4 separate regions of the Homo sapiens genome follow, and regions 1, 2 and 4 are each linked to region 3. Evidence: fine-mapped expression QTL. A gene starts in region 3. Each other region holds a variant in brackets. All regions are shown on one strand. Distances are between the middles of the regions.

Region 1 (7,676 bases), 30 kb before region 3:
GTTGAAACTGTGCTGGCTGTGGCTGCCCATCAGACACCCGATCTTGCAAGACCATCATCAACAGTCTCACTTTCAGCCAGGTGCAGTGGCTCATGCCTGTAATCCCAGCACTTTGGGAGGCTGAGGCAGGCAGATCACAAGGTCAGGAGTTCAAGACCAGCCTGACCAACATGGTGAAACCCCGTCTCTACTAAAAATAAAAAAATTAACTGAGTGTGGTGGTGTGCACCTGTAATCCCAGCTACTCAGGAGGCTGAGGCAGGAGAACTGCTTGGACCCGGGAAGCAGAGGTTGCAGTGAGCCGAGATTACGCCACTGCACTCCAGCCGGGTGACAGAGCGAGACTCTGTCTCAAAAAAAAAAAAGAAAGAAAGAAAGTCTCCCTTTCACTCTCCTCCGGGTCTCCGAGTCCTTCTTCTGGGTTTGGACAGATGAGTTTGTTTCTCACCACTTGAGACCAGGAGTTCCAGACCAGCCTGGGCAACATAGTGAGACCCCGTCTCTATTTAAAAATGAAAGTAAAATAAAAAATAAAAGAACAAAAGACCACAGGTCATGTTGTATTGAAGAGCGGAGAAAGAGCTGTTGAATTCTCTGGATGGCTGTTTCCTTACGGCCTGTACCACTGGAAGTCATGTCTTAATCCCCAACTGGAAGAAGGCGCTCAACCCACCAGCAAATCTGCACGTAGGGAAGAATTTTCCAAATCTTGAAGAAATAAGAACCCAAAAAAAGCACCAAATAAGTTACAGATTTCCATTGCTCAATCAATAATGATGATGATAAAATAATCAAGAAGCCGGGTGCGGTGGCAGCACCTGTGGTCCCAGCTACTCAGGAGGCTGAGGTGGGGGGATCACGTAAGCCTCGGAGTTTGAGGCCAGCCTAGAAACATAGCAAGATCTTGTATCTTAAAAAAAAATGAATAAAATGTTAAAAAATAAAACAAAATAAGAAACTGATGAAATTCTTGGACTTTGATAACGGCAGGAAGCCGCACACATACAGGAAGAACAAAGTCCAGAAAGAGCTGACGGTGGACGCCCAAGAGAAGAGGCGGCTTCTGCGAGCTCTGTGTCGTTAGGAAGGGAACTCGGCTTCATTTCAAATTCCAAAGGGGCTCAAACATATGAATAAGACCCCAGTCTTTCATGGGAGCCCCAAAAGTGGGGCTATTTTTCTACGTTTTGACAGCTCCCCACAACATGAATCCTGTCTTCTCTCTGCACGGCAGTCCCACATCCCACATCCCCAGCCTTCCTTGCTGCTGGGACGCATGCAGCTCTGCCAGGGAGACGCAACCTCCCCAGGCCGGCAGGGCACAGCAGGTTCTGGGCCCACGGTGAGGACGAGCCGGTGATATGGAGTCTCCTGGGTGTGCAGAGAAAGATGTTTCCAGGGAAGCTGAGAGAAGGAAGCTCATTAGCCAGTGCAGAGCTGGGCTTGGAGGCCTTTCCTCTAGTCCTGCAAGGAGCTGGGAGCTGTCACACTGCTCACCATGTCCCTTTCTGCTCAAATTCCCCAGGATGGATTCTGCCCCCTGCACTCAAGAAAACACAGGGGGCCGGGCGCGGTGGCTCACGCCTGTTATCCCAGCACTTTGGGAGGCCAAGAAAGGCGGATCACGAGGTCAGGAGATAGAGACCATCCTGGCTAACACGGTGAAACCCCGTCTCTACTAAAAATACAAAAAAATTAGCCGGGCGTGGTGGTGGGTGCCTGTGGTTCCGGCTACTCGGGAGGCTGAGGCAGGAGAATGGCGTGAACCTGGTAGGCGGAGCTTGCAGTGAGCCGAGATTGTGCCACTGCACTCCAGCCTGGACGACAGAGCAAGACTCCGTCTCAAAAAAAAAAAAAAAAAAAAAAAAAGAACACACAGGGGCGCCCCCATCAAAACCCACAGCAGACGTGCTGTATCGGACCACATACTGGAGCACACGGGGCTGTCCCCATCAACATCCACGGTGGACGTGCCGTATCGGACCACATACTGCGTGCGTGGTGGTCAAAGACATGAAGTTGAACTCTCATGGGTCTATCAAGTTGAGAACCAAAACCCCCAATTTTTAAAAGGAATCGGTAACACTCACTACCTCTGAGGATGTACGGAGACAGTCATTCCTGATGGGACCAAACATTGGCCCTTCCTTTTTATAAAGCAATTTGGCAATAATGTCAAGAACCTTTAGAAGGGGTGGCTCCTCAGCCCAGCAATTCCAGCTTTGAGAAACTGTATTTAGGAAAAGCAATCTGTCCAGCGTGGTACTACTCAAGATACAGCCATAAGTGACACAAATGTCCACCAATTAAGAGATTAGTTGGCCAGGCGCGGTGGCTCACGCCTGTAATCCCAGCACTTTGGGAGGCCGAGGCGGGCGGATCACGAAGTCAGGAGTTCAAGACCAGCCTGGCCAACACAGTGAAACCCCGTGTCTACTAAAAATACAAAAAATTAGCTGGGCGTGGTGGCGGGCACCTGTAATCCCAGCTACTAGGGAGGCTGAGGCAGGAGAATCGCTTGAACCCAGGAGGCGGAGGTTGCGGTGAGACGAGATCACACCATTGCACTCCAGCCTGGGCAACATTGCAAGACTCCCTCTCAAAAAAAAAAAAGAGATTAGTTAAATAAAGTGTGGTGTCTTATTCAGTGAAATAGCAGTCATTTAAAATTAGCTGAGGAAGAACTTTGTGAAATGGAAAATATTGTACCATTTAATGTTTAAAATCCAATATAAGGCCGGGCGCAGTGGCTCATGCCTGTAATCCCAGCACTTTGGGAGGCCAAGGAGGGTGGATCACCTGAGGTCAGGAGTTCGAGATCAGCCCGGCCAACATGGGGAAACCCCATCTCTACTAAAAATACAGAAATTAGCTGGACATGGTGGCGGCGGACGCCTGTAATCCCAGCTACTCAGGAGGCTGAGGCAGGAGAATCGCTTGAACCCAGGAGGCAGAGGTTACAGTGAGCCGAGATGGCGCCATTGCACTCCAGCCTGGGCAACAAGAGTGAAGCTACACCTCAAAAAGAAAAAAAAAATCCAGTATAAAATAGTAGATTCAAATATGTAAATACGTGTGAAGGGGGCAAAGAAAGAGAAACGCGAAAAAAGGTGAGCAGTGGTTATCCACGAACACCCGATGTGTAGGTGTGTTTTCCCGTCGTTATCTGTCACTGCTTTCTGCGTTAATTTAAATGCACTTGCATCACTTTCAGGATCAGAAAATAAAGGCCTATGTGTGACCCTGGGGCGCTGGCGGGGGCTGGACGGAGGCCCAATGCCCCTGTTGCCCATTGTCTCCAGGCTTCTCCAGGACTCGGCTTCCCGCCTCTCCTTTGGGGACCGCACGAGTCACTGGGGGAGGCTCCGCGGGCAGCAGGTCTCTGGGAGGGGTTGTCGCCCCCTCGGTGCGCAGGGGAGCGACGGGTCCCTCCTGCACCTGCAGGGACAGGCCTCGGGCTGCACCGTCCCGCGCCCGCCTACCCCGCGCCCGCCTCGCCGGACGCCTCCTGCCTGAGTCCGCCAGGGGGCGCTGCCGGCCTCCCGGGCGGCGGCTGCTGCAAGAGGAAGCCCCGGCCCGCGAGCTGCTGCCACATCCGGACGCCGCCGGGAGCCGCCGGGAGCCGCCGGGGTGGGCGGGAGTCGGGGCGGCGCGCAGGTTCCCGGCCCCCTAAGGGACGGTTGCCTTCCCCAGAGCCGGGGACACAGGCGTACGTGCGGGGACCTCGGCGCTGGCCTCCGGGCTTCTGGAGCCCCTCCCTGGTGCGGAGCGGGGACGGTGACCTCCTCGTGGATTCTGGGAGGGGCAGCCTTGGCATCAGGACCTGGAAGCCGGAGAGGCTGCAGGGCTTCCAGCCATGGCCTTGCCACCGGAGGTCACGTAGTGTTTCCACATTTCCTTAGTGTGT[A/G]CATGTGTGGGTCCCTGTGTTGTGGAGGGCTGTGTCTGCTTGGTGTGTGTGCACACGCGTGTGTGCATGGGTGGGTCCCTGTGTTGTGTAGGGGCCGTGTCTGCTTGGTGTGTGTGCACACGCGTGTGTGCATGGGTGGGTCCCTGTGTTGTGGAGGGCTGTGTCTGGGCAGGCTGTGTACACACCCATGTGCATGTGTGATGCGCACTGGGGCACTTGTCTGGGTAGTAGAGGTGGAGGCCTGTGTGGCCATATGTGCAACTGTGTGTCCGGGTGCGTGTACCACAGTCTTCCCTAAAATAGTAATACTGGGACCTACGTCATGGGGCTGTTGTGACCGCGTGTGGCACTCCATGTGGGGTGGCACAGCCAGGCGCTGATCCGGCCACTTTGCCAGTCGGACTGACTGCGTGTCCTCTCCTTAGGGGTGAGAAGCTTCCTGGCATCGGGCCTGGGCTCCTGAGCCCCTGAGCCAACCGACTGATGGTCCCTGGGAGACAGCCCCCGCCCTGCTCCTGCCCCCCACACCTGAAAGGCTCATTGTGTGGGTTTGCTGTGCTCCACAGGGATGTAAACCGCCCCTCCTTTTCCCTGTTCTGTCTGTGAGAAGGTGCCAGGGATACTTTTTTTTTTTTTTGAGACCAAGCTTCACTCTTATTGCCCAGGCTGGAGCGCAATGGCGCGATCTCGGCTCACTGCAACCTCCACCTCCCAGGTTCAAGCGATTCTCCTGCCTCAGCCTCCCGAGTAGCTGGGATTATAGGCATGTGCCACCACACCTGGCTAATTTTTTTTTTTCAGCAGAGATGGAGTTTTCTCCATGTTGGTCAGGCTGGTCTCGAACTCCTGACCTCAGGTGATCCGCCGGCCTCAGCGTCCCAAAGTTCTGGGATTGCAGGCGTGAGCCACCGTGCCCAGCCCGTTTTTTTTAAGAGTCGGGGTTTCACTTTATCGCCCAGACTGGAGTGCAGTGGTGCAATCATGGCTCACTGCAGCCTCAACCTCCTGGGCTCAAGCAATTCTCCCGCCTCAGCCTCCTGAGTAGCTGGGATCACAGGTATGCACTAATTTTTGTATTTTTTTGTAGAGACAGGGTCTTGCTATGTTGTCCAGGCTGGTCTTGAACTCCTGGGCTCAAGCAATCCTCCTACCTTAGCCTCCCAAAGTGCTGAGATTACAGGCGTGACCCACGGCCCCCAGCCAGGGATACTTATGGAGGTCCCTGGGCAGTTCAGGTAAAGAGGATCCCACTGCCAGGCACGGAGGCTCATGCCTGTAATCCCAGCATTTTGGGAGGCTAAGGCAGGAGGATGAGTTGCGCCCAGGAGGTTGAGGCTGCAGTGAGCCAAGATTGTACCACTGCACTCCAGTCTGGGCAACAGAGCAAGACCCTGTCTTAATAAAAGAAAAAAGAAAGAAAAAAAAAGGCCGGGCGCGGTAGCTCACACCTGTAATCCCAGCACTTTGGGAGGCTGAGGCGAGTGGATCGCTTGAGCTCAAAAGTTCAAAACCAGCCTGGCCAACATGGCAAAACCCCATCTCTACAAAAAGTTAGCTGGGCATGGTGGCAGGCACTTGTGGTCCCAGCTACTTGGGAGGCTGAGACAGGAGAATTGCTTGAACCCAGAAGGCAAAGCTGGCAGTGAGCTGAGATGGTGCCACTGCACACCGGCCTAGGCAACAGAGTGAGTGAGACTTCAACAGGATTCATGAGAAGAGTCTGTTTTTAAAGCACACCTTCCTCTTCTAGGACTTTGATAGAAGGAGGTTAAAGTGCTCTGTTTCTGTGTCTTCTGAGAGGGTGGCCGCTCCCAGGGCATACAGCCCTCACCATTTCCCCCTTTGATGGACAGAGATGAGTTTCTTCTTAGCAGACTTTGGCCCACCAAGCCAGAAATGTGTCCAAGAAAAGCTCAAGGAGGAAAGAGAGTCAACCAAATTCACTTTCGGAGCACCTCCCACAGTAGAGAGGTTACGCGGGCTACAAAATTGTATGAAAACCTCCCTACCCTGGAACTTGGGTGAAGCTTGAGGACACCATGCTGAGTGAAATTAGCCAGACACAGAAGGACAAATTCTGTGGGATCCCACTTACGTAAGGGTGACAAGAAGGAAGAGGCTGAGGTGCAAATTATGATTTAAAGAGTTGACTTGAGCCAAGGTGAGGACAGCTGCCTGGGAGACTCGAGTGGCCTTGGATATGAGCCCCATTAGGCCTTTATTACAATCAGGATTTTAAAGGCAAAAAGGGGAACAGGGAGTGGCTGATACAAAGTTGTTTTTCAGGAATTCTTGTTGGTTGACAGAAATAACATTGATTAGTGATGGGCTGTGCACCGTTGAGCTGCAGGGTGTGGGTTGCAGGGTGGGGGATGGCATTGTTAGGTTAATTCACAGCTAGCAAGTTCCAAGACATCAACACACAGCTCAATGTGTTGGAGGGAGATATCTGCAGTTGTTACCAGACAGGGGTCCCGATCCAGACCCCCAGAGGGCGTTCTTGGATCTCGCGCAAGAAAGAATTCAGAGCGAGTCCATAGAGACAAGTGAAACCAGTTTATTAAGAAAATAAAGAAATAAAGAATGGCTACTCCATAGGCGAGCAGCTGAGGGCTGCTGGTTGCCCATTTTTATGGTGATTTCTTGATGATATGCTAAACAAGGGGTGGATTATTCATGCTCCCCTTTTTAGACCATATAGGGTAACTTCCTGACGTTGCCATGGCATCTGTAAACTGTCACGGAGCTGGTGGGAGTGTAGCAGTGAGGATGACCAGAGGTCACTCTTGTGGCCATTTTGGTTTTGGTGGGTTTGGCCGGCTTCTTTGCTGCAACCTGTCTTATCAGCAAGGTCTTTATGATCTATATCTTGTGCCAATCTCCTATCTCATCCTGTGACTTAGAATGTCTCACTTCCTGGGAATGCCGTCCAATAGGTCTCAGCCTCATTTTACCCAGCTCCTACTCAAGATGGAGTTGCTCTGGTTCAAACATGCCTGACATTTTCTCTTTCCCTTTTATAAGAGAACCCTTAATCCTAAGAGTTGCAGGGGGATGAAGATCCATCTTCTGTAACTTCTTCAGGCTGAATAGGGGCGATGACATTCCTGCCTAACTATTAGGGTCCCTTGTGTTCAGGGTAGAGAGGAGCACAGTCAGAAGGCATCAGTGTGGTGAGGGCTATTCATAACTCTTAAGTTCCAACAAAAGGTGATATCTGGGCAATTAATAAGTGTTCAGTTTAAGAAAACATTGAGCAAGTTTATTTTGCATACCTACACAGAGTACAACAACAATATATTCCACAATAGTAAAGCAAAATAAGTACAATTATTCCAAGTAAACTAAATTAGAAGGCTTTTCATGAACTGGGCAACTATTGGAACCAAGATGATGTGAGGTTGCTAGCCAATTCTAGTGTGCCCAGAATTAGAATATTGATTCAGATTTTTACATTACCCATCCCTCTTATTTCTTCTGAGCAGCAGTCAGAGTTCACTGGTTGGTTCACAGGAATAAGCAAGGTTAGCCTAAATTCCAGAAGCAAATCTAAAAACAACTGATGAGACTAGAATTTAAAAACAACATACCACAGTTCCTGAAACATAATATTTCTCTCTCTAGTTTCCCATTTTTACTAAAGGCAAATCATGGTAAGACTGATTTACTTTATTATACTTGGCCTGATTATTTGTATAAAGGGCAGCAAGAATATTTTTCACATAGGTTCTTTTTAAATTGGCTTTGATGGAACTCTGTTCCGTAGAAG
Region 2 (7,676 bases), 92 kb after region 3:
AATCTTTGGCATTTAACTGGAGTGTTGTTTATGTCATTGTTACCAATAAATTAATGAGATGGTCAGGTTCAAGTCCACCCTCTTTCCATTTCCATTTGTCCTATCCGTTCTTTATTCCCTTTTAAAAGTGAATTTCCAGGCCAGGCGCGGTGGCTCACGCCTGTAATCCCAGCAATTTGGGAGGCAGAGGCAGGCAGATCACGAGGTCAAGAGTTCGAGACAAGCCTGGCCAACATGTTGAAACGCTGTCTCTACTAAAAATATAAAAATTAGCTGGGCATGATGGCGGGTACCTGTAGCCCAGCTACTCGGGATGCTGAGGCAGGAGAATTGCTTGAACCCAGGAGACAGAGGCTGCAGTGAGCCAAGATCACATGACTGCACTCCAGACTGGTGGCAGAGCAAGACTCCATCTGAAAAAAAAAAAAAAAAAGAATTTCCTGTCTGCCTTTTGTAAAACAAACATAAAATTCAAAGCCCCCTCAGACCATCTGAATGGACCGCTGTATCAGGGAGGGCATTTCCAAGGCTAACCTGAAGGGCTGGCTCCGGCCATGATGGGGGCAGGGGTCAGACATGACTCATGATACCGCCTTTTGGAATTATTGATAGAACAGACTCTTTAAGCCTCATGAGAATCTGTTCCCTCTGAAGCCTGCCACCTGGAGGCTGCATCTGCATGGTGAAAGTTTGGTCTCCACAGCCCCTTATTATAACCCAGACATTCCTTTCTGTTGATTCCAGGTCTTTAGATAATAACTCTTTCAACCAATTGCCAATCAGAAACATTTTAGATCTACCTATAACCTGGAAGCCTCCCACAGCCCCTGTTCCAGACCAAACTAACGTACATCTTACATGTATTTGATTGATGTCTCATGTCTCCCTAAAAATAAATTAGTCTGTGTCCTGACCACCCTGGGCACATGTTCTCAGGACCTCCTGAGGCTGCGTCATGAGCCATTGGTCACTCATACTTGGCTCAGAATAAATCTCTTCAAATATTTCACAGTTTGACTCTTTGTCAACACTTTGGATTGAGTGTTCTTTCAAATTATACTTTGTCTCCTCTGTTGGCTTGTTCTTTCTCTCTTTGCCTCTCTCTCTGGTATTGTTAGTGGCTGCCCCAGGGTTACCACACACATCTCTGGCTCATCACACTCACTAGACCATCTCCCCTTTCCCCCAGGGCTGTCACACACATCTCTGGCTCATCACACTCACTAGACCATCTCCCCTTTCCCCCAGGGCTGTCACACGCATCTCTAGCTCATCACACTCACCAGACCATTTCTTTCCCCATTCTTTGTGTCGTGTCATTCGTTTTACTTCTACATATGGTATTAATGCCAACATATATTATTTTTGCTTTCAACAGTTGTTTTTAAAGAAAATAATGATTGTGTAGCTAATTTGTGTGAGTGTCTACCCAAATGCTTGCAAGTGCGGGCGCTCCCCAGGCCTTCGGCAGACCCTGGCTTCTATCTGGCTTTGCTTTCCAGCAGCTGAAGCTCCTTCCTCCTGCACTTCTCCTACTAGAGGTCTCTGTCTGAAAAGGCATACTTTGCCTCCATTCAGAAATGTATGTTCACTGAATACAGACTTCCCAGCTGACAGTGTTTGCTTCAGCTCTTCACTAATGTTTCTGAAGATAAGCCACTTAGATTTGTATGGAACTGGGTTTTCCTGATGAAGAGGCACTGTGCTTGTGCGTGACTGTGACTCATTCCTCTTTGCTGGTGTGTAGTACGTGTCCTAAGCAGCTTTGTGTGTGTTCACTTGGAACCACCCCATGAGGTAAGTAGGATTATTATCTCCACTTATAAGAAAACCAAGGTTTAAAGAATTGCAGGAATTTGCTCAGGGGCACCTGGAGAGTGACAGATGGAGGACCTGGCAGAGGGGGGACCTGGCCAGTGTTAAAGCTTCTCTGCTGATCCCAGTGCCTTGAAGGTGCTGTTCATTCTGTGAAGAGTGGACTCCTGGCAGGCGTCCACTTCTCAGTACAATGCTCCCTCAACTTGTGCTGCAGTTGGCCTTGGTTCCTCCATCACGGACCACAGAAAGCCTTACCTCTGCTCGGCTGTCCGCCCCTCGGCTTCCTTAGGACCTCTGCCGGGGGAGCACACTGCGCGGGGATGTGGTTTCCCTGTTCTGTTCCCTGGGAGGAGCACGCTGCGCGGGGATGTGGTTTCCCCTGCTGTTTGGGAAACCTGCCCGCAGTTATTTCTCCTTTCCGTATGCTCAGATTCTCCCCTTTTCTCTCTTGCTTGCTCAGTTTGATGCTTGCTCAATTCTCATTACCCGAGAGCAGCTCTCCCTGGCCTCTGCCTTGCCTCCAGCTACATCTCGCCGCACCCACTACCCGTCGGGCCCAGCACACAAACTGAATGGCCCGAGATGCCACCGTGATGGTCTGTTTCTGATTCTCACCATACCTTAAAACTCCCTTCTTTTGTTCTGTCACACTCGTACTTCTCCCCATTCTTATCTTGCTGGTCTTTGTTCCTTCCACTGGCCCTGCTTCATTCACTCCTCAGTGTTTACTGAGCACTGTGCACCAGATGCTATAGACTTGGGGACAGGCTTGTGCCTAAAAACACGACTTCAGAAGCCTGACGAATGGGGGCCCAGATCACAACACACGTGCTTGAGCTTGAGACCTGTCTTAAAGAAAAAAAATTGACAACTCTCTGAGGCACTAGTTCAATTTTTTTCTTGACGGCATCTAGCGCTGTTGCCCAGGCTGGAGTGCAGTGGTGCCATCATGGCTCACTGCAGCCTTGACTTCCTGGGCTCAAGCAATCCTCCCACCTCTGCCTTCTGAGCAGCCAGGAGTATAGGCATGTGCCACCACACCTGGCTAATTTTTATATTTTTTTGTAGAGATGGGTTTTCACTATGTTGCCCAGGCTGGTCTTGAGCTCCTAGGCTCAAACAATCTGCCCACCTTGGCCTCCCAAAGGGCTGGGATTATAGGCTTGAGCCACCGCGCCCCACTGGTGTGTAATTTTAATCCTAACATCATTTGCCTGATGTGCAGGAAGTCAGTACACTGAGACACTGGGGATTGCAGCAGAGACGGAGCTTAACACCCAGAGGGGAACTGAACAAGAGACAGAGGAAGCCTTGAACGCGCCTCTCAGAGGAGTTTGGGGCTGGGGATTTTAAGGGTTTCGGAGTGGCCGAGGTGTGGGAGTTGCTGATGGGTTGAAGAGTGCAGGCTAAAATCATGGGATGGGGGGATGAAGAA[C/A]CTGCATTCTCATGCCGCCTCAGCGCCCTGTGGGAGCCTTTGACTGGTTGATGTCAGCTGTTCTGCTGGAATTGAGGATCTGAAAAACATATTAAGCAATGTTTAAAGCCTTATGGTTCTAACGTCAGTGGTCCTATCTATGAGAATAATGGGGGTGCAAATGATCAGTATCCAGGGCTACAAGACTTCCAGTTACAAGGAAGTGGGCCAAAGTGCAGCCTGATTCATGCTTAGTTATGACTCCATTTCTGCCCAGAACCCGGCGTGTAATTCCTGCTAACCCATTGAGGACAGTTTGAGGTTCAAGAAGATATTCTAGAAATAAAATAAAAACAATTTTTTATTAAAAAGAAAAATAAGAAATAATATAAAAACATAAAACAATCTTTTATTAAAAAGAAAACCAAGAAACAATAATCTGATAATAGAGGCCACCAAGAGAAAAGCTAACCAGAAACAAAGATGGACAGTGAACTATGAGTGGGGAGGGGTGAGGCCAGCCCTTCTTCTCATTAGACCTTCCAGTTGGTTTACTTAGAAAGATTAGTGCTAAGGAAAGTGACAGCAAAGAAGTTGAAGGGGAAGAGGCAATGTAGAATGTCAAAAAAGAACACTTCCTGGAACAGAAGTCCGGAGTCTTCCAGTCTGAAGGCTCAGTGGGTGGCTGGCAGAGGCCAAATGAAAGTGGACACACACCGAGACACTCTTGTGAGATACCAAAAGTCCAGGAACAGAAGATTCCAAAAGTGACATGAAAGAACTACAGGTTAGTTAACAAAATGGCATCAGACTTTAGAGCTAGAAAATAGAAGACTATGGCAGTGCAATCCCTTCAAAGTTCTGAGGGAAAGTGATTTTGAGCCTAGAGTTTTTATGTAGACCAACAATCAAACACAAGTGTAAAATAAAAACAGTCCAGCCAGGATTCAGGAAATTTGTCTCCCAGGCATTCTTTCTGAGAAGATCATTTAAGAATCTACCTAATGAGGCCCGGCACAGTGGCTCACGCCTATAATCAGCACTTTGGGAGGCCGAGGTGGGTGGATCACCTGAGGTCAGAAGTTCGAGACCAGCCTGGCTTTTTCTCTACTGAAAATACAAAAATTAGCTGGGCGTGGTGGCGTGTGCCTGTAATCCCAGCTACTCAGGAGGCTGAGGCAGGTTAGGAGTTTGAGACCAGCCTGGCTAAATGGCAACACCCCATGTCTACTGAAAATACAAAAATTAGCTGGGCGTGGTGGTGTACCTGTAATCCCAGTTACTTGGGAAGCTGAGGCAGGAGAATCGCTTGAACCCAAGAAGCAGAGATTGTAGTGAGCTGAGATCGTGCCACTGCACTCTCCAGCCTGGGCAACAGAGTGAGACTGTCTCAAAAAAAAAAAAAAAAAAAGAATCTACTTAATAAAACCAGAAGACAAGAAAAAGAGAAGACTGAGATCCAAGGAGTGGAACTACACAGGAATGCAGAGAAAATGGGTTCCAGGATCACAGCTATGCAGGGGCTCAAAAGCCAAATGATGTGGCCGGAAGTAGGGGTGCATCGAATTGTGCCTGGGAATGGCCAGGGCACTCTACTCTGGCCTGGGAAACACAGTGAGACCTCGTCTCTTAAAAAAAAAGAGGCAAATGATTCATTGTATTATTATTATTATTTGTATTTTTAGTAGAGATGGGGTTTAACTATGTTAGCCAGGATGGTCTCAATCTCCTGACCTCATGATCCGCCTGCCTCGGCCTCCCAAAGTGCTGGGATTACAGGCGTGAGCCACTGCGCCCAGCTGATTCATTGTATTATTTATATTATTTTTATTTATTAATTTATTTTTTGAGACAGGGTCTCACTCTGTCGCCCAGGCTGGAGTGCAGTGGTGCGATCATAGCTCACTGCAGCCTCAACTTCACAGGCTCAAGTGATCCTGCCACCTCAGCCTCCTGAGAAGCTGGGACTACAGGCAAGCACCAGCATGCCTGGCTAATTGTTAAATTTTTTTGTAGAGCTGAGGTCTGTTATCCAGGCTGGTCTCAAACTCCTGGCCTCCAGCAATCCTTCCACCTCAGCCTCCCAAAGTACTGGGATTATAGGTGTTAGCCACCATGCCTGGCCCATAGTTCAATTTAAAAAACTATTAGGCCAGGCGCGGTGGCTCACGCCTGTAATCCCAGTACTTTTGGAGGCCACGGCAGGCGGATCACAAGGTCAGGAGTTTGAAACCAGCCTGACCAATATGGTGAAACCCCATCTCTACTAAAAATACAAAAAAAATTAGCCAGGCGTGGTGGCACACGCTTGTAATCCCAGCTTCTCAGGAGGCTGAGGCAGGAGAATTGCTTGAACCCAGGAGGCTGAGGTTGCAGTGAGCCGAGATTGCGCCACTGCACTCCCGTCTCAAAACCAAAACCAAACTACTTATCCGAGGGCCAGGTGCCGTGGCTTACAGCTGTAATCCTGTCACTTTGGGAGGCTGAGGCGTGCAGATCACTTGAGGTCAGGAGTTTGAGACCAGCCTGGACAACAGTGAAACCCTGTCTCTACTAAAAATACAAAAATTAGCCAGGTGTGGTTGCACACACCTGTAATCTCAGCTACTCCAGAGGCTAAGGCAGGAGAATCACTTGAACCTGGGAAGCGGAGGTTGCAGTGAGCTGAGATTGCACCACTGTACCCGAGCCTGAATGACAGAGTGAGCCTCCATATAAAAAAAAAAACCACGAAAACCCCAAAACAACAAGAAAACCACTATTAGAGGATTCTGATAAATGATTTTTTTTTTTTTTTTGAGACAGAGTCTCGCTCTGTCACCCAGGCTGGAGTGCAATGGTGCAATCTCGGCTCACTGCAAGCTCATCCTCCTGGGTTCAAGCGATTCTCCTGCCTCAGCCTCCCAAGTAGCTGGGACTACAGGTACGAGCCACTACGCCCAGCTAATTTTTGTATTTTTTGTAGAGATGGGGTTTCACCATGTTGGACAGGCTGGTCTGGAATTCCTGACCTCATGATCCTCCTGCCTCGGCCTCCTAGTGTTGGGATTACAGGCTTGAGCCACCGTGACCAGCTCCGAAATGTGTGTTTTAAGAAAAAAATTGGGTTTATGCAAACTGTGATAAGGAAATTATCTTAGTGATAAGACAAAAGGCATCTTTTTTTTTTTTTTTTTTTGGTCATCAGTAGCAATTAAAAACTCCAGGAAAAAAAAAAGCTGGACAAAAATGCCATAGTGCAAATATAAAGCAAGTTAAAACATGACATACATTTTCAGCTTTAATGGAATGTGGAAAGAAATAGCTTGTCTTTGATGCTTAGAATATTCTTTGAGCTGCACAAACAAAGGATTACATTTCTCTTTTTTTTGAGACAGAGTCTCGCTCTGTCGCCCAGGCTGGAGTGCAGTGGTGCGATCTTGGCTCACTGCAAGCTCTGCCCCCCAGGTTCAAGTGATTTTCCTGCCTCAGCCTCCCGAGTAGCTGGGACTACAGGCGTGCGCCACCACGCCTGGCTAATTTTTTGTTTGGTAGAGACGGGTTTCACTGTGTTAGCCAGGATGGTCTTGATCTTCTGACCTCGTGATCCGCCGCCTCGGCCTCCCAAAGTGCTGGGATTACAGGTGTGAGCCACTGTGCCTGGCCTGCCAATACAGGAGGTTTTCATGAGAAACTGAGTATATTCATGGATCGAGAGAATAGGGTTTCAATATGTCCATTACAATTACAAAGGTAACCCATAAAATAACTGATGACAACAGTGGATTAGGTTGGGAGGAGAGCGGGCGGGGAAGTGCAATTACTTTGGGTTGGCTGATTCCTTGTGTTTTATGGTAAAGAAACAACACAGTGGGTGGGGCCATTTTGTTTTCTTAATAATTTGTCATTACTTTTAAACATTCTTTTGACACAAAATTAAAAAAATACAAAATGGTATATGCATAGAAAAGATTCTCGCATACCTGCTCGCAGCCTTCCAGAACTCCATTCTGGAGTTGAGCCGTCGTTATTCACACGTACACGGGCCGCACACACAGTGGTGGCAGGACGGCACTGCTCTCTTTTCTTACGTGGTATTTCTTGACACTCACTCCAAATGGACATCTAGATCTTGGTTCAAGCTGCATGGTCAGAATATCACACATGCATGGACTTAGCACATGGTCTGTTTCCTTATTGAAGGACATTTAAGGTATTTTCTGTGTGTGCGAGAACAGTACTAGAAATCATTCTACGTGAGTGAAAGGAACTTACTGGGTCAAAGGTGTGGGCATTTTCGAATTTAATATACCCTCACAAATTTACCTGAGAGACCATCATTTCACAATGTCTCAGATCCCTCGAGCTGACCTCCCTCACCAGAGCCCACCAGCCTGTCCCCCATCACTGCTGGGCCTCTCACTCTCACATGGCCCAACTGTCACCTCTGCCCCCTCCAGCCCTT
Region 3 (7,676 bases):
CCTGGTAGAGACTTAACCAGAACTGGTCACTGGGCCCATGGTCAGGGCCCTGGAGGAGACTTAACCAGAACTGGTCACTGGGCCCACGGTCAGGGCCCTGGAGGAGACTTAACCAGAACTGGTCACCAGTGTATTTGGTTCCAATTAGAACAACAGTTCAGTTACATATTTATGAGGCAAAAGACAGGACTTTGGAGGATGTGTCCAGCCTTGTCACAGGTAAATAAGGGACATCATGAATCTCATCTTTGTCACCTGGGGACAGGGTTCTGAGCTGTTTCCAGAACATAAAGGGGGGGACTTCCTAACCTCCCAGGATCATAGGGCTCAGGTAAAGCTTATCTGTCAATTTTCCTTAAAAATAATCATTACTGTTATATATTATTATGTATGTATATACACACACACCTCAGATGAGGGCTTGACTCTCCCTGAAATATTAACACACCCTTTCCACCTATAACATTGCCCCCTCGCCGCCGATTTCTGTCTCCAGCCCTCTGCTGAAAATCAGGCCACGGGTTCCACAGCCTGGCTGCACAATGCGGTCCATGGGCCAGAGCAGGGCCTCCTGCTAGCAGGTTGGAAATGCAGCGTCCCAGTCCCCAGCCAGCTCTGCAGCACCAGGACCCACAGGTCTCTGGCAAGACCTGTCCTCCCCTCAGGGCTAGAGTCGCACTGCACTGGAATTTCCTGCAGTGAGATTTGGGTGACCCTCCCCACTCCCAGTTGCCCGTCTCCTGTAACCAGGCAGCATGTGGTCAATTGACTGGCTTCAGCCTCCAGGACAGCCTGGAGCTCCGTGGGGTTTGGCACATGCTGTGGCTCCACGAAGATGCCCACGTCATGGTTCATCACTGCTCGGTGGGTTCTGCTGCCGTTATCTTTGTCCTCTGTACTCACATCCCATTTTCTCAGGTCCTCCCGGCCTTGGGGATGCTAGACGTTCCTTCTATCTTGATGGGCACCCCAGAACTGAAGTACTCCTGAAGCCCTTCTAACTTCCAAAGGGCAGCAGCTTCTACAAAAAAAGCAACAAGGGCCAGGCACAGTGGCTCGCGCCTGTAATCCCAGCACTTTGGGAGGCCAAGGTGGGCGGATCACCTGAGGTCGGGAGTTCGAAAACAGCCTGGCCAACATGGAGAAACCCCCGTCTCTACTAAAAATACAAAATTAGTTGGGCGTAGTGGCGCATGCCTGTAATCCCAGCTACTTGGGATGCTGAGGCAGGAGAATCGCTTGAACCCAGGAGGCGGAGGTTGCAGTGAGCCGAGATTGAGCTATTGCACTCCAGCCTGGGCAACAAGAGTGAAACTCCGACTCAAAAAAAAAAAAAAAAAAAAGCAACAAGACGGCTGAATTCCTGAAGGGAGGAGGGGCATCATGGGTGGTGACCCCACAGAGGCCCCCTGGTGTGGCCCCTGAGGCCCCTCAGACTGAAGAGGGCCTCCTGCAAGGGAGCTGGGTCCCCCGGGGGAGGGTGAATTCTGAGTCCCTGAACTGCAGGGCAAGCTGACCCAGAGCTCCAGCACTGCAAAGCCTCCCCCGGAAAGGGCTGTCTGGAGCGGCTGTGGCCAGCACAGTCACTCCTGGGGTGGGTGTGCACCTGGCTTTTGCATCATGGCTGACTGTGCTGGTGGCTTCACAGAAAGGGAGTTTGTGTGAGGATGCTCGGGTGCCTGCTGGGTGCTTGGCACTGGGGTCGGGGGGGCGGTGAATGGAGGCACCTGAGGGACACAGTCCCAGGTGGGAGCTGTCCCAGGTGGGAGCTGTTCCAGATAGGAGCTGCTGTCTCCCAGTCAGGTCCCAGGTTGGGGCTTGGCCAGGCCTGGGCTGGAGCGGGAGACCTTTCTAGCTGCCTCGGTCTGGCTGCCCACCCTGCACAGAGCCTGGGGCTCTGGCCTCTCTGTATCTCTCCTCTCCACTCTTCCTGGAGGGCACCGCTCTTATCTGACCTGCTCCCCCACAGTCTCCCTACATCTGGCCCAAAAATACACTTGGTGGCAGTCCCGCCATCACACTCAGGCTCGGGAGCTGGCGGCCCCTGGTCCGTGCTGCCTGCCACGCTGCTTTCCACGGCAGTGGTGGGAAAGGGAGGTTAGAACCCCATCTCCATGGCCAGAAGGCAGGAATTAGGGAAAAGGGGAGCCGTGAGGCTTCCAGGCCTGGGGTTGGAACAGAAGCTGCGCGGTGTGGGGCGATTTGGGCGCAGGACCCCGGGTGCTGGGAAGTGGGGAGCAGGACTGTGTCTGTTGCTCCAGAAAGCGCGAGGGATGCGATATAGGAAATTCGGGCGTCAGTTAGAGCCCGAGAGGGGTTCAGGGAGTCACTGACTTAGGCAGAGAGGAGCCCAGACGGGGTTCGAAGACCCTGGGGACGGACGCCCACCTGTCAGTCCTGGACTGTGGGGCACCCGTAGGCCGAGGGGCAGGAGGCTATGGCCCTGTCTCCTGGCTTGGGTCTAAACATCCCAAGGAGGTCAGACCGTAGAGTGGGGGCTGTGTGATCTTTCAAATGAGGGACGCCGCGTGTTACCAAAGGCCAGTGCTGAGGAGCTGGGCTGAAAGCTTGGGGAGTTCCCAGAACCAGCAGACTAGGAACGGGAGGAACCGTGTCGGGGGCTCTGCTCCGCTGGGCACTGACCCCCACCCCGCCCCCCGGTCTTGCAAGGGCTGGAGAAGGGTGAAAGGCAGAGGCGGGAGTCCGCACTTAGGGACCGGTCCGTTCCACACGCTGCTGACCAGGCTCCTGGGTGGCGCTCGCATGGAACATTCCGGAAACACCCATGGGAAGGTCCCAAGTTGGTTCCGAAAGGCCCTGACGGACGCGCAGGGGACGCTGAGCCTGTGATCCTCGCCTCACCCAGACGAGGCCGGGCTGCTTCTCACAGGAAAGTGCGTCTGGAGTCCGGGGACGGCCTCCTCCTGGGGCCTGTCCAGGTCGCCCTGGGCCTAAATTACAGGCGGGGAGAGGCCTGTCGGAGGAGCCCCCGCTCCAGACCCCTGGGGGACCCAGGGCGAGGTCGCCCCAGCGCCTCACGTCTGGGGGCTCCCCTTTGCCACGTCGCCAGAGCAAAATTCAAAATCTGCAGTTCTGGCAAATTTCCGGGGCCTCCCGGACACGAAAAGCAGCTGAAATCTCAGGACAATGTCATTGGATGCGGACCGAGAAGAAGCCGTTCGGAACCAGAGCTGCCCCGGATTCTCCCAGGCCTGGCTCGCCGGTGGGGGGACCCCGGTCCCTGGTTTGGGGGGGCAGGAACGGGCGGGCGCCCCTGGGGGCTTCTCATTTGTGTGTTGGTCTCGGCCTTGAAATGCAGCGGAGAAAATAAAAAATAAAATAAAAATAGGAGTCAGGTGTCAGAGTCGGGTCGGCCAGGCACTGAGGTTTGAAGGAATCGCAGAAGAAGCTCCTCTCACCCGGGTCCAGGCCGCGGGGGTTCTGCGGGAGGCGCCCCCGATTCTGCCCGCGGGACGCCGCGGCCTCGGAAGCCCCGGGAGCAGGCCCCGCCCCGCCCCCACCCTCCTCTCTCCCCAAGTCCTCCCGCCCCCCCAGCCCCGCCCCTCCCCCGCCCTGGGTGCTCCCCTGCCCCTCCCCCGGCCCTCCCCCGCCCCTCACCCGCTCCTGCCCCTCCTCTCTCCCCAGGTCCTCCCGCCCCCAGCCCCGCCCCTCCCCCGCCCTGGGTGCTCCCCTGCCCCTCCCCCGCTCCTGCCCCTCCTCTCTCCCCAAGTCCTCCCCGCCCCCAGCCGCCCCTCCCCCCGCCCTGCCCCCCCCCGCCCCCGCCTCCAGCCCCGCCCCTCTCCGCTCCCCGCCCCGCCCCCACGCGCCCGCGGTCCCGCCGGAAGGACTTAAGCGCCCCGGAGCCGGGAGGCGAACTTGGGACCCGCTGGCCTCGCTCGGTGCGCGCCTCCCTCCCCGCATGCAGCCCGCCGAGCGCTCGCGGGTCCCCAGGTGTGTGGCGCGGGGTGCGGGCGTCCCCGGCGGCTGCGGTCCCCGCGCGGGCCCGCGACCCCCCAGAGGAAACTTCGGGGACGCCGGCCTCCTTCTCTCGGTTTTGCAGGATCGACCCGTACGGATTCGAGCGGCCTGAGGACTTCGACGACGCCGCCTACGAGAAGTTTTTCTCCAGCTACCTGGTCACGCTCACCCGCAGGGCGATCAAATGGTCCCGGCTGCTGCAGGGCGGGGGCGTCCCCAGGAGCCGGACAGGTGGGTCCCGGGGGCGCAGGTGGGTCCCGAGGGCGCAGGTGGGTTGGGCTGGGACGGGCCGGGCAAAGTCCGGGCTCCCGGAGCGGAGGGAGGGGGAGGAACCTTTCCGGGCAGGTCGGGACGAAGCTGCGGGCTCCGAGCTAGGGCAGCCGCAGGGACCGGTTTTCCCGCTTTGAGATGGGCCGGCGGGTCGGACGCGAAGGAGACCCGTCCCTCCCAGCAGGGAGCCATATCGGGATGGATCAAAACTCGATCCATGCCGGGCGCGGTGGCTCACGCCTGTAATCCCAGCGCTTTGGGAGGCCGAGGCGGGCGGATCACGAGGTCAGGAGTTTGAGACCAGCCTGACCAACATGGTGAAACCCCGTCTCTACTAAAAATACAAAATTAGCCGGGCGTGGTGGCTCCTGCCTGTAGTCCCAGCTACTCTGGAGGCTGAGGCAGGAGAATCGCTTGAACCCAGTAGGCGGAGGTTGCAGTGAGCCGAGATTGCGCCATTGCACTCCAGCCTGGGCGACAGAGCGAGACTCCGTCCTTGTGACGGGACCCACAGGGCCCTGCTCGACCTGCCGCTCCTCCGCGACCCCAGGCCTCCTACTGCTGCGGTGAGCACCGGCCTGACCGCCCGCCCGCCTCGGGGTTAGCTGCAGGGCCCCCTCCTCCGGGGCGCCCCAGGCTTCCCTGTGCGGAGGGCACCTCCTCATTTCTGCCTTTCCCAGCACAGCCCCTGCTGGAGTCAAAAACCCTTCCTCCCTGCAACGGATTTTTCATTCACTGCTCAGTCCTCAGAACCTGGGGCAGTGCCAGGCGACTTCCCTGTGTGTTCAGTGAATGAATGAAGTGTCTGCCTGGGGTGAGGGCTTGGTGGGAGTGTGCCCTGGAGCTAGGAACTCAGAGAAGTGGGGTCAAAGGGGAGTCCTGGGGGCTTCCTGAGAAGGGGGATGTGAATGGCAGCTGGGCTTCCAGGGACCGAGCAGTAGGGACCTGGTGGGGAAGGACAGAGATGAAACCAGGGGCCCTGCACCTGGGCGGAGGGTCGGAGGTGTGTGGTGACCACGGCCAGGCACAGAGAAGCCAACTGTTAAAGGTTTTCCAGGCAGGGGGTGACAAGATCAACTTTTGCTTTTATTTATTTATTTGAGACAGGGTATCCCTCTGAGTGCAGTGGCACAATCACCACTCACTGTAGCCTTGACCTCCTGGGCTCCAGCCATCCTCCCCTCTCAGCCTCCCGCATAGCTGGGACCACTGGTGTGGCCACCACTCCTGGCTAATTTTTAAATTTTTTATAGAGATGGAAGTTAATATCCTATATGCTTCCCACGAATGCATCATGTCCCATCCCTGTGGCCTCTGCATGTTCACATGTTTCCAGTGGAACGTGTGTCTTTATTTTTCCTTTTCATTTATTCTTTTTGATTTATTTATTTTTGAGACAGAGTCTCACTCTGTCGCCCAGGCTGGAGTGCAGTGGTGCGATCTCAGCTGACTGCAACCTCCACCTCCTGGGTTCAAGTGATTCTCCTGCCTCAGCCTCCTGAGTAGCTGGGATTACAGGTGCACACCACTACACCTGGCTAATTTATTTTTTATTTTCTTATTTTTTTTATTTTGAGACGGAGTCTCACTCTGTCGCCCAGGCTAGAGTGCAGTGGCATGATTTCAGCTCATTGCAACCTCTGCCTCCTGGGTTCAAGCGATTTTCCTGCCTCAGCCTCCCAAGTAGCTGGGATTACAGGCACCTACCACCACGCCAGGCTAATTTTTCTATTTTTTAGTAGAGATGGGTTTTACCATATTGGCCAGGCTGGTCTCAAACTCCTGACCTCAAGGGATCTGCCCACGTTGGCCTCCCAAAATGCTGGGATTACAGGCATGAGCCACTGCGCCTGATTTATTCTTAAAAGTTAACTGTCTTTTAATTTTAAAAAGTAACGTAAAAGTATATAAGACATGTGAACTTAAAAAGCATAATTTATGTACATGGTAAACACTTTAATCATACTGAGGGCTACAAAGTGCAACAGGGAGTTTCTCTCCCACCCATGGCCCCCATCTCCTATAGAGATGACCGCAGGGGACTGTCCTTCCGTCCCCCTCAGGAGCAGAAGTCCACGCTTGGTTCTGCAGTTTGCTTTAAGAGCAGGGGAAGTCCGTGGGAAGTCCTGTGGCTGTGACCTGGAGGTTGGTTACAGCGGAGAATCTGAAAGATGTATGGTTGTGCATAAATTTTTGTTTTTACAGAAAACACAACTGCACAGTCATTCTCCCGTCTTTGCCTTTGCCATTTGGGTCTGTCCTATTGCTGTCCTTTTCTTCGACCAGGAGCTGCTAACTTGGGTTCCATATTTTCCTTTTTAGGGAACCACTCAGCACATTGCCCCCACTTTCCAATATGGACTTGGGAGGGGGTTCTGGGAAGAGCAGGGAAAAGGAAAAGAGCAATCCGGATGCAAAATCCTCCAGATTTTTATTCTTTTCCCCACTCCTTTGCAATTATTTTACACCTAAGTCAACAGTTTTGTTTTTGCTTTTTTTTTTTTTTTTTTTTAGCATTGGTCTCTATCAACTCTTTCTAAAAATTTCATTTTGTTTTTATTGAAGTAACAACTTTCTTCTTTTTGCTTTAATTTTTTTTTTTTTTTTTTTTTTGAGTCAAAGTCTAGCTCTGTCAGCCTGGCTGGAGGGTAGTGGCGCAATCTCGGCTCACTGCAACCTCTGCCTCCCAGGTTCAAGCAATTCTCCTGCCTCAGCCTCCTGAGTAACTGGGATTACAGGCACTCGCCACCATGCCCGGCTAATTTTTGTGTTTTTAGGAGAGATGGGTTTTGCCTTGTTGGCCAGGCTGGTCTCGAACTCCTGAGCTCCAGTGATCCGCCCACCTCAGCCTCCCAAAATGCTGGGATGACAGGCGTGAGCCACCATGCTGGGCTAATTTATGTAATGTTAAGTGGACCATGTAATTATGGTAGCAAGCATCACTGGCATAAATGGGTCTGTGAGCAAATATATCTCTTTGATCCTATATGAGCCTCAGCCTGAGGGGTGGGAGCCACAGGGCTGTGGGCCTGTTCTGCAGGGAGTAGGGATGCTGGTGACTCCGGTGGGAGGCACATGGAGTCAGTGATCGCGTGTCTCTACTGGCCTGGGGCCTGGGTCCCAGTGTGACCGTCAGGGTGCCCATGAGCACTGGCAAAGCCCCAAGAGCAGAGGGTCGGGTATAAAACTGGAGTGGACGAGTTATTCCAAAAATGGGAATACCACTTCTTCCTGCCAGGTATTCCAGGCTGACAGTGATAGAGTTCTTTCCTCTCCTTTTGGAGGGTTTTCATCTGCACTCCCCATGTTAAAGTCTCCAGGAACACAATCATCTACCAATCTCAGCATTCCACATGTCTTAAGGGACAGTTATTATGTATTCTGCCTGATCACACTCTTGGTGGGTACAATAAATATTGTATTTTCCT
Region 4 (7,676 bases), 22 kb after region 3:
TCTGCTCTCTGCCACAGAGGTCCTCCCAGATCCGCTCAGCCACAGAGGTCCTCCCGGATCTGCTCTCGGCCACAGAGGTCCTCCCGGGTCTGTTCTCAGCCACAGAGGTCCTCCCGGGTCTGCTCTCAGCCACAGAGGTCCTCCCGGGTCCACTGTCAGGCACAGAGGTCCTCCCGGGTCTGCTCTTGTCCACAGAGGTCCTCCCGGGTCTGTTCTCGGCCACAGATGTCTTCCCAGGTCTGCTCAGCCGCAGAGGTCCTCCCGGGTCTGCTCTCGGCCACAGATGTCTTCCCAGGTCTGCTCAGCCGCAGAGGTCCTCTCGGGTCCACTCTCGGCCACAAAAGTCCTCCTGGGTCTGCTTTTGGCCACAGAGGTCTTCCCAGCATTTCCGTCATCAGCTCGAAGCAGTCGGTTCTTCCCAGAGCTTCCATCGTCATCTTCTGGAACATGATCTTCTCTGCACTGGTTACTTTTGCTTTTTGAGTGAAACTCTTAGGGTCTGTTTTTAAGGGGAGGTCCAGGCCAAGGGACGTGTAAGGCTGCGTGCCCGTCCTCCAGTGCTTTGGCTCCGGGTGAACAGCGCCACATCCCTGTGTGACTGAAGCCGCCGCGCTGCTGCCAGCATCGCTCTCTGCAGCTGCCCCTCCGCACTTCCGATCACGTGAATTGATCTTGTGGGCTGGCAGAAGCTGGATTCTTTTCCCTTATTACTAGAGAAATACTTACTTTAGAAATTACAAATGAGTGACAAAGAAGAGAATTTCAGTCGTGTAAAACGCAGTCACCTGGAAATGGCGCTGACTCACGGCTGCGAAGCCCCCAGGGTCTGGGGCTGCCCTCGATGGAGAGGGTCACATACGTGATGTTGGAGGCAGCACCCGCCCTTTGGCAGGTGTGCACGTGGATTTCCCAAAAGGGTCTCCACCACGAAATTCTCCTAACACCCGCGTGTCAGCACATGTTCCTTACGGTTTTATAAAATGTGGTCATTGGTATAATTTTCTCTCTGGCAGAGAGTTTCATGCTGTTGATATATAGTAATTTCTTTAGAAAGCAATGGTAAGTTATGTTCTTTTATCACAAGGTTACCATTAGTGGAAGAGTCTTTGATTTTAGTATTCAGGATTTCTTTAAACTGTTTCCTTTTGCTTTTACTTTTCACGTAAGCTTGACTAAACACATTACTAGACGGTAGGTATTTAGTGACTCTAGAGTTCTACTAAAGGATCATTCTGCAATTATGCAGGTTTTAAGGAGAAGCAAGAGAAATGGAAACTGGGTAGTTTGTAGCCGAATGATTGCAGAATCAAATGGGGGCTTAAAACTCAATGTGAATTTGTTTCTCATTTTTCTAATTTCAGGGAATGAATTTTATAGCAGGATATCTGATTCTTATAACAAATAATGAAGAAGAATCTTTTTGGCTGTTAGATGCTCTTGTTGGAAGAATACTACCAGGTATGTTGAAAATTCCTGCGGTATGCCCGAACTGTCCTGTTTCTGGTGCTGCCAAAATGATTCCGCTGAGAAATCAAAATTTAATTAAAACATGGTTGAATTGTTTGGGAGATGAGGTTACAAACCGTTTTTTTTTTTTTTTTTTTTTTTGAGACGGAGTCTCGCTCTGATGCCCAGGCTGGAGTGCAGTGGTGTGATCTTGGCTGACTGGAACCTCTGCCTCCCGGGTTCAAGTGATTCTCCTGCCTCAGCCTCCCAAGTAGCTGGGATTGTAGGTGTGTGCCACCACACCCGGCTAATTTTGTATTTTTAGTAGAGATGGAGTTTCACCATGTTGGTCAGGCTGGTCTCAAACTTCTGACCTCAGGTGATCCACCCGCCTTGGCCTCCCAAAGTGCTGGGATTACAGGCATGAGCCACCATGCCTGGCCAAAAATCTTTTTGCAGTAAAAAAATTTCTTTGAAATTGAGTTGAAAAGGAGAAACCCATGTGAGTGGCCAGGGTCCGGCTGCAGCAACTGCTTGCTCCTGGGACGGCAGAGGGCCTTTTGCCGTCTCTTAGCCCTTGTGGGCAGCTGGGGCTGTGTGGTTGGCTCACCCCTTCCTCAGTTGGTAACTTCTGTGCCTATTGAGGGCCACGGTGTGGTTTGTATTGATCACAGAATCTCTGAGAGGCTATCTTGGTTTTATGTATGTATTTGTACTGAGTTTGTGAATACTAGTAAGAGCATAATAATTGCGCTATATATATCCATGGTTGCTTTTTAAGTAATTACTTACTTTTTAAGGTGAAAACCATTCTTTTCAAACCTTTCCACTTTTCTATTTATTAATGTTTAATTATTTAATAATTAAAGTGTATTTATTAGTGGATAAGTTATCCACGGGTTATGGTGAAGGCCAGTGCAGACGATGAGCTGCAGGCTCAAGTCACTTGGGAAGAGAAGCTGAGGATCAGTCGGGTGGGCAGGGCCTGGGGCTGAGACCACTCTGCCCTTCCCCAGCCTGGCTGTGGTGCTGGGTCAAGGGGGCTGCGTGCTCATCCTGCAGGGCAGAGGAGACGTGAGGGGCAGCCGGGCCAGTCCCCAGTGTTTGGAGCCTGGGGGTGTGTGGCTCCAGCTCCTGCCTGGTGAGCACACGGCATGTGTCAGTTTCCTGCTGAGCTGCGCTTGTCCTCAGAACAGCCACACCACACGGACACAGTCACCCACCCCATTTCCAGGGTGAGGACACCGAAGGCCGGGAGAATTTGCGTGCTGGCCTGACCACCGCTGTACATGGCAGAGCCTGGTTCAGATCCTGGCTGTGTGACTCACAGACCATAGTGTGTGTCCTCACGGATGGGGCAAAGCTCAAGTGCATCATTAAGGGCAGGGAGGAATCAGCGCCACCCTCAACCCAAGGGCGCAGAAATGAGGATGCCAGAGACCAGCCTGACGGAGCCGCCCCAGAGGAAGGGAACCCCACAGAGCTCCCGGGAGTGGGAAGAGCTGTTGACCCGGCTGGGGCCCAGGGACCCAGTGCAGCAGCAGCAGCAGCAGGCAGAACCTCGCAGGGCGGAAAGGATGCCGGCTGTCTCAGCTCAGTTCGGTGAACACCTGGACCAGGTGGAATGGTGAAATTAGAGGCAGATGGAGTTAGGAGACATCCAAATGTGGGATTGGTAGGACATGGAAACGGGCTCACAGCCTGCTTCGGTTATGTCTGAGTGCAAATCATGGCGAATCTTCACAGCCGTGGGCCATGCAGTTCTTTTCACCACATATTGTTGAAAACCTATCGTGTTCTGGGCGCCGTTCAGGGGTGTGGGAAACATCGGTGAGCACACACGAGTTCCTGTCTTTGTGGAGGGCAGACCTCAAGCAGCAGCAGGTGAGAGCTCAGGTCGGAGGGCTCAGCACCAACCTAGAGGGCAGGAGCAGGCCCCGCCGTGCTGGTGTGATGGACAGATGCGTTTTCAGTCC[G/A]TACGACGTCACTTCCGATATTCATTATGAGATTAAGTTGAACGAAACTGCAATGCAAATAGGTCTGGATTCAAAAAGAAAAGAAAGTACAAAAACTAAACTGTTAGGATCATGGGAGGAAAAGGGGGTTATTCCGATCCCGGCAGAGCTCTCCCAGCGGCAGAGAAAAGAGGCAAATATATGTCCTTCTCTAAGTTACAGTGACCGAAGTAGGTCGTTTCAGTGCCACAGTCATCCTGCTCTAAAATCCATCCTCGAAGTTATAGTTACCCAAACTAGGTCGTTTCAGTGCCACTGTTATCCTGCTCTTAATTGCTGCTTTTAAGTTATACAAGAAATACACAGATATATTCTCATTTCAGAAGTTCAAAAAATACAGTACTTTTTTTTTTTTGAGACTGAGTCTCGCTCTGTCGCCCAGGCTGGAGTGCAGTGGCACAATGGCTCACTGCAAGCTCCGCCTCCCAGGTTCACGCCATTCTCCTGCCTCAGCCTCCCGAGTAGCTGGGACTACAGGCGCCCGCCACTACGCCTGGCCAATTTTTTTTTGTATTTTTAGTAGAGATGGGGTTTCACCGTGTTAGCCAGGATGGTCTCGATCTCCTGACCTCGTGATCCGCCTGCCTCGGCCTCCCAACAGTACTTTTTATAGAATAAAAAGTGACAGCCAGGAGCCGTGGCTCACGCCTGTAATCCTAGCACTTTGCAAGACCGAGGCAGGCATTTAGGGGAGTTCAAGACCAGCCTGGCCAACATGGCAAAACCCCACCTCCACTAAAAATACAAAAATTAGACAGGTGTGGTGGCAGATGCCTGTAATCCCAGCTACTTAGGAGGCTGAGGCACAAGAATCAGCTTGAGGGAGGCTGAGGTTGCAGTGAGCTAGATCACACCACTACACTCCAGTGTGGGAAGACGGAGCGAGACTCCATCTCAAAAAAAAACAGGGCCGGGCAGAGTAGCTCACATATAATCCCAGCATCTGGGAGGCCACAAGGTGAGAGGATCACTTGAGCCCAGAAGTTCGAGACCAGCCTGGGCAATAAAGTGAGACCCCTCCCATCTCTAAAAATAAAAATTTAAACAAAAGTGACGACCCGCCTTCACTGGCACATCCCCATTTATCTCCTACTCAGAGGTAACTGTTATCATCAGTCTGATGTATGTATTTCCAGAGTTTTTATAGACCGATATAAACATACACATGAAGGACTGAAAATTAGCGACAGAAACAGAGAAACAGAAGAAAAGATAAACTCAGACAAAAATCTGGTTCTTTGGGAAAACTGATAAATAGACAAACCTCTGGTAAGACTGATAAGAAAAAAATGTAGCTGGGCACGGTGGCTCACGCCTGTAATCCCAGCACTTTGGGAGGCTGAGGCAAGAGGATCACCTGACGTCAGGAGTTCGAGACCAGCCTGACCAACATGGTGAAACCCCATCTCTACTAAAAATACAAAAATTAGCTGGGCGTGGTGGCGGGTGCCTGTAGTCCCAGCTACTTGGGAGGCTGAAGCAGGAGAATTGCTTGAACCCAGGGGACAGAGGTTGCAGAAAGCCGAGATCACACCACTGCACTCAGGCCTGGGCAACAGGACAAGACCCTGTCTCAAATAAATATATACAAACATACATACATACACACATACATAAAAGCACAGACACTGAAGAGAAATCTTTGTTGAGGTATAATCCACATATCCCACAGTTCCCCCATTTCAAGCGTATGGTGCAGTCGTGATTGGTGCATTCGTGAGTTTAGAACAGGCTGTAGTGAGCCAAGATCACACCACTGCACTCCAGCCTGGGCGACAGAGTGAGACTCTTATCTCAGAAAGAAAAAAAAAAAAGGATAAGATATAGTAGAAATGAAAAGGTGCTGTAATTTGAAGATTTGTAGAGATTTTTAAGAATCAAAAGAAAAAAATGAAGAGACAGAAATGGATAATTCTGAGAAAAAAACAGCCTAACGAAGTTGACTTGAGAGAGAAAATAGAACATCTGATGGGTGTGTGCATGGACACACTGGGTTTTTACTGCTATCAAACTGTGAAGGAACAGGTAACTCCTGCTTTTTAATGTTTTTATTTTATTGTTTTATTTATTTAATTTTTTCAAGACAGAGTCTCACTCTGTCGCCCAGGCTGGAGTGCAGTGGCGCAATCTCGGCTCACTGCAAGCTCCGCCTCCCGGGTTCACGCCATTCTCCTGCCTCAGCCTCCTGAGTAGCTGGGACTACAGGCGCCCGCCACCACGCCCGGCTAATTTTTGTATTTGTAGTAAGGACGGGGTTTCACCATGTTGGCCAGGCTGGTCTCAAACTCCTGACCTCAGGTGATCCGCCCACCTTGGCCTCCCAAAAGTGCTGGGATTACAGGCGTGAACTACAGCGCCTGGCCATTTTATTGTATTTTTTAGAGACAGGGTCTCAGTCTGTCACCCAGGCTGGAGTGCAGTGGTGTGATCATGGCTCACTGCAGCCTCGACCTCCTTAGCTCAAGTGATCCTCCCACCTCAGTCTTCTGAGTAGCTGGGACCACAGGTGGGCACCACCATGCCTAGTTGATTTTTTTTTTTTTATTTGTAGAGACAGGTTCTTGCTATGTTGCCCAGGCTGGCCTTGAACACCTGGCCTCAAGTAGTCCTCCTGCCTTGGCCTCACAAAGGGCTGTGATTAATTCCTGTTTTTTAAAAATAAATCTGTGGCTCATACCTGTAATCGTAGCACTTTGGGTGGTGCATGCCTGCGGTCCCAGCTACCCAGGAGGCTGAGGTGGGAGGATCACTTGAGCTAAGGAGGTCGAGGCTGCAGTGAGCTGTGGTAGTGCCACTGCACTGCAGCCTGGGTGACAGAGCAAGACCCTGTCTAAATAACTGATTAATTAATCAATCTTGCAGAAAATAAAAAAAAGAAACTCTCATCACTTCATGTTATGAAGCTAGTATAGCCTTCACACCATACAGACTAATCTCACTGATGAATAGAAGTATGTAATTGTTAATTATTAATGTTAGCAACTTGAATCTACAGGTGACTATGAAGTATTTTTTTAGTTTGAAGATAGTTTTTTCCAGAAATCCAAGGATGGCTTAATCATATGGAATAATCAAGGGCAAAGCCAAGCCAAGAAGGCTTGAAAGAAGAACACTAGAGATATATTATAATGCTCTAATAATTAAAATGGTGTGGTATTAGGTTATGAATGGATAAACAGACCAATGGAACAAAATTGCGAAGCCAGATAGAAATCAACCAGTCTGTGGATCTATTAATTTATGGGAATGTCTTTTGTGAGATATATCAATTAATGGGAAAAAGACTGTTTAAAACATAATTCAGTGACAGTTGACTGTATGGAAGAAAACAAAATTAAACCCTTATTTCATTTCCAGATGGATTTAAGACTCATGTAAAAAAGTAAAACTTTGAAACTCAGAGAACAAAATACAGAACAGTCGTGTCATGTGGGAGTAGGGGAGAAGTTCTTGAACATAATTCAAAAAGTATAAAAGGCATTGATAATTTTAATTACATGAAAATTTAAAAACTAATTTTGGTAAGAGACATCATAAGCAAAGTAAAAAGATAAGCTGCTGGTTTGAGAAAGTATCTTTGATCCATATAATTAACAAAGGGTTAGTGTCTGGACTGTGTGTGAATTTCTAAAAATCTAAGCAGAAAGCCAGGGTGTGGTGGCTCATGCCTGTAGTCCCAGCACTTTGGGAGGCTGAGGTGGGTGGATCACCTAAGGTCAGGAGTTCGAGACCAGCCTGGTCAACATGGTAAAACTCTGTCTCTACTAAAAATACAAAAATTAGCTGGGCATGGTGCAGTGCACCTGTAATCCCAGCTACTTGGGAGGCTGAGGCAGGAGAATCACTTAAACCTGGGAGGCAGAGGTTGCAGTGAGCCGAGACTGCACCATTGCACTCCAGCTTGGGCAACAAGAGTGAAGCTCCGTCTCAAAAAAAAAAAAAAAAAAAAAATCTAAGCAGAAAAAGAAACAGCTCAGCAGAACATCAGGTGAAGAATGTGCCTGACAGGCAATTTACAAAATAGAGACCGGAATGGCCAGCAGACCTGTGAACCCATGGCTGAGCTCCCTGGTGAGCATGAAGGTGGAAATGGAAAGACTGGGGTTGGAGTGGAGCCTTCTGCAGCCACCGAGGCCTCCAGGCCCGTGACACAAAACGAAAGCTCCCTGCCGTGGGGCAGTGACCACGGGGTGCGAGTCCGTCTGGGTATTGAAA

Alleles and levels. Alleles are on the strand shown, and positions count from the first base shown. SD is a standard deviation of normalised expression in the study named. Not every link is listed here.
With allele C in place of A in region 2, the expression in monocytes after Pam3CSK4 of the gene that starts at base 3,841 in region 3 is lower (large effect, 1.1 SD a copy in Quach 2016).

The links.
Region 1: its variant is fine-mapped to the expression of GRTP1 in lung (TOPMed, PIP above 0.99).
Region 2: its variant is fine-mapped to the expression of GRTP1 in monocytes after Pam3CSK4 (Quach 2016, PIP 0.95). The same link has a PIP of 0.9 or more in macrophages, monocytes, monocytes after LPS and monocytes after R848.
Region 4: its variant is fine-mapped to the expression of GRTP1 in atrial appendage (GTEx, PIP 0.97).

The regions. Positions count from the first base shown.
Region 1 is chr13:113,389,997-113,397,672 of GRCh38, reverse strand. No RefSeq gene overlaps it. Among named protein-coding and RNA genes, the nearest start is that of GRTP1, 30 kb to the right of the region's middle. RefSeq lists silencers at 3,282-3,391, 3,402-3,751 and an enhancer at 3,669-4,210. The variant A/G (reference allele first, on the strand shown) is at 3,908.
Region 2 is chr13:113,268,471-113,276,146 of GRCh38, reverse strand. No RefSeq gene overlaps it. Among named protein-coding and RNA genes, the nearest start is that of MIR8075, 9.4 kb to the right of the region's middle. RefSeq lists enhancers at 419-713, 1,666-2,165. The variant C/A (reference allele first, on the strand shown) is at 3,254.
Region 3 is chr13:113,360,295-113,367,970 of GRCh38, reverse strand. GRTP1 (growth hormone regulated TBC protein 1) reads left to right here and starts at 3,841. Exons shown (of 8, transcript NM_024719.4): 1 at 3,841-3,951; 2 at 4,061-4,209. The coding sequence starts at 3,920. It overlaps GRTP1-AS1 (GRTP1 antisense RNA 1), which reads right to left. Exons shown (of 2, transcript NR_120385.1): 2 at 6,103-6,412. RefSeq lists enhancers at 200-893, 1,588-2,281, 2,282-2,975 and a silencer at 3,963-4,257.
Region 4 is chr13:113,338,645-113,346,320 of GRCh38, reverse strand. GRTP1 (growth hormone regulated TBC protein 1) reads left to right here. Exons shown (of 8, transcript NM_024719.4): 5 at 1,362-1,458. LOC124903217 (MAGE-like protein 2) reads left to right here. Exons shown (of 2, transcript XM_047430838.1): 2 at 1-1,355. The coding sequence ends at 451. Among named protein-coding and RNA genes, the nearest start is that of GRTP1-AS1, 9.2 kb to the left of the region's middle. The variant G/A (reference allele first, on the strand shown) is at 3,423.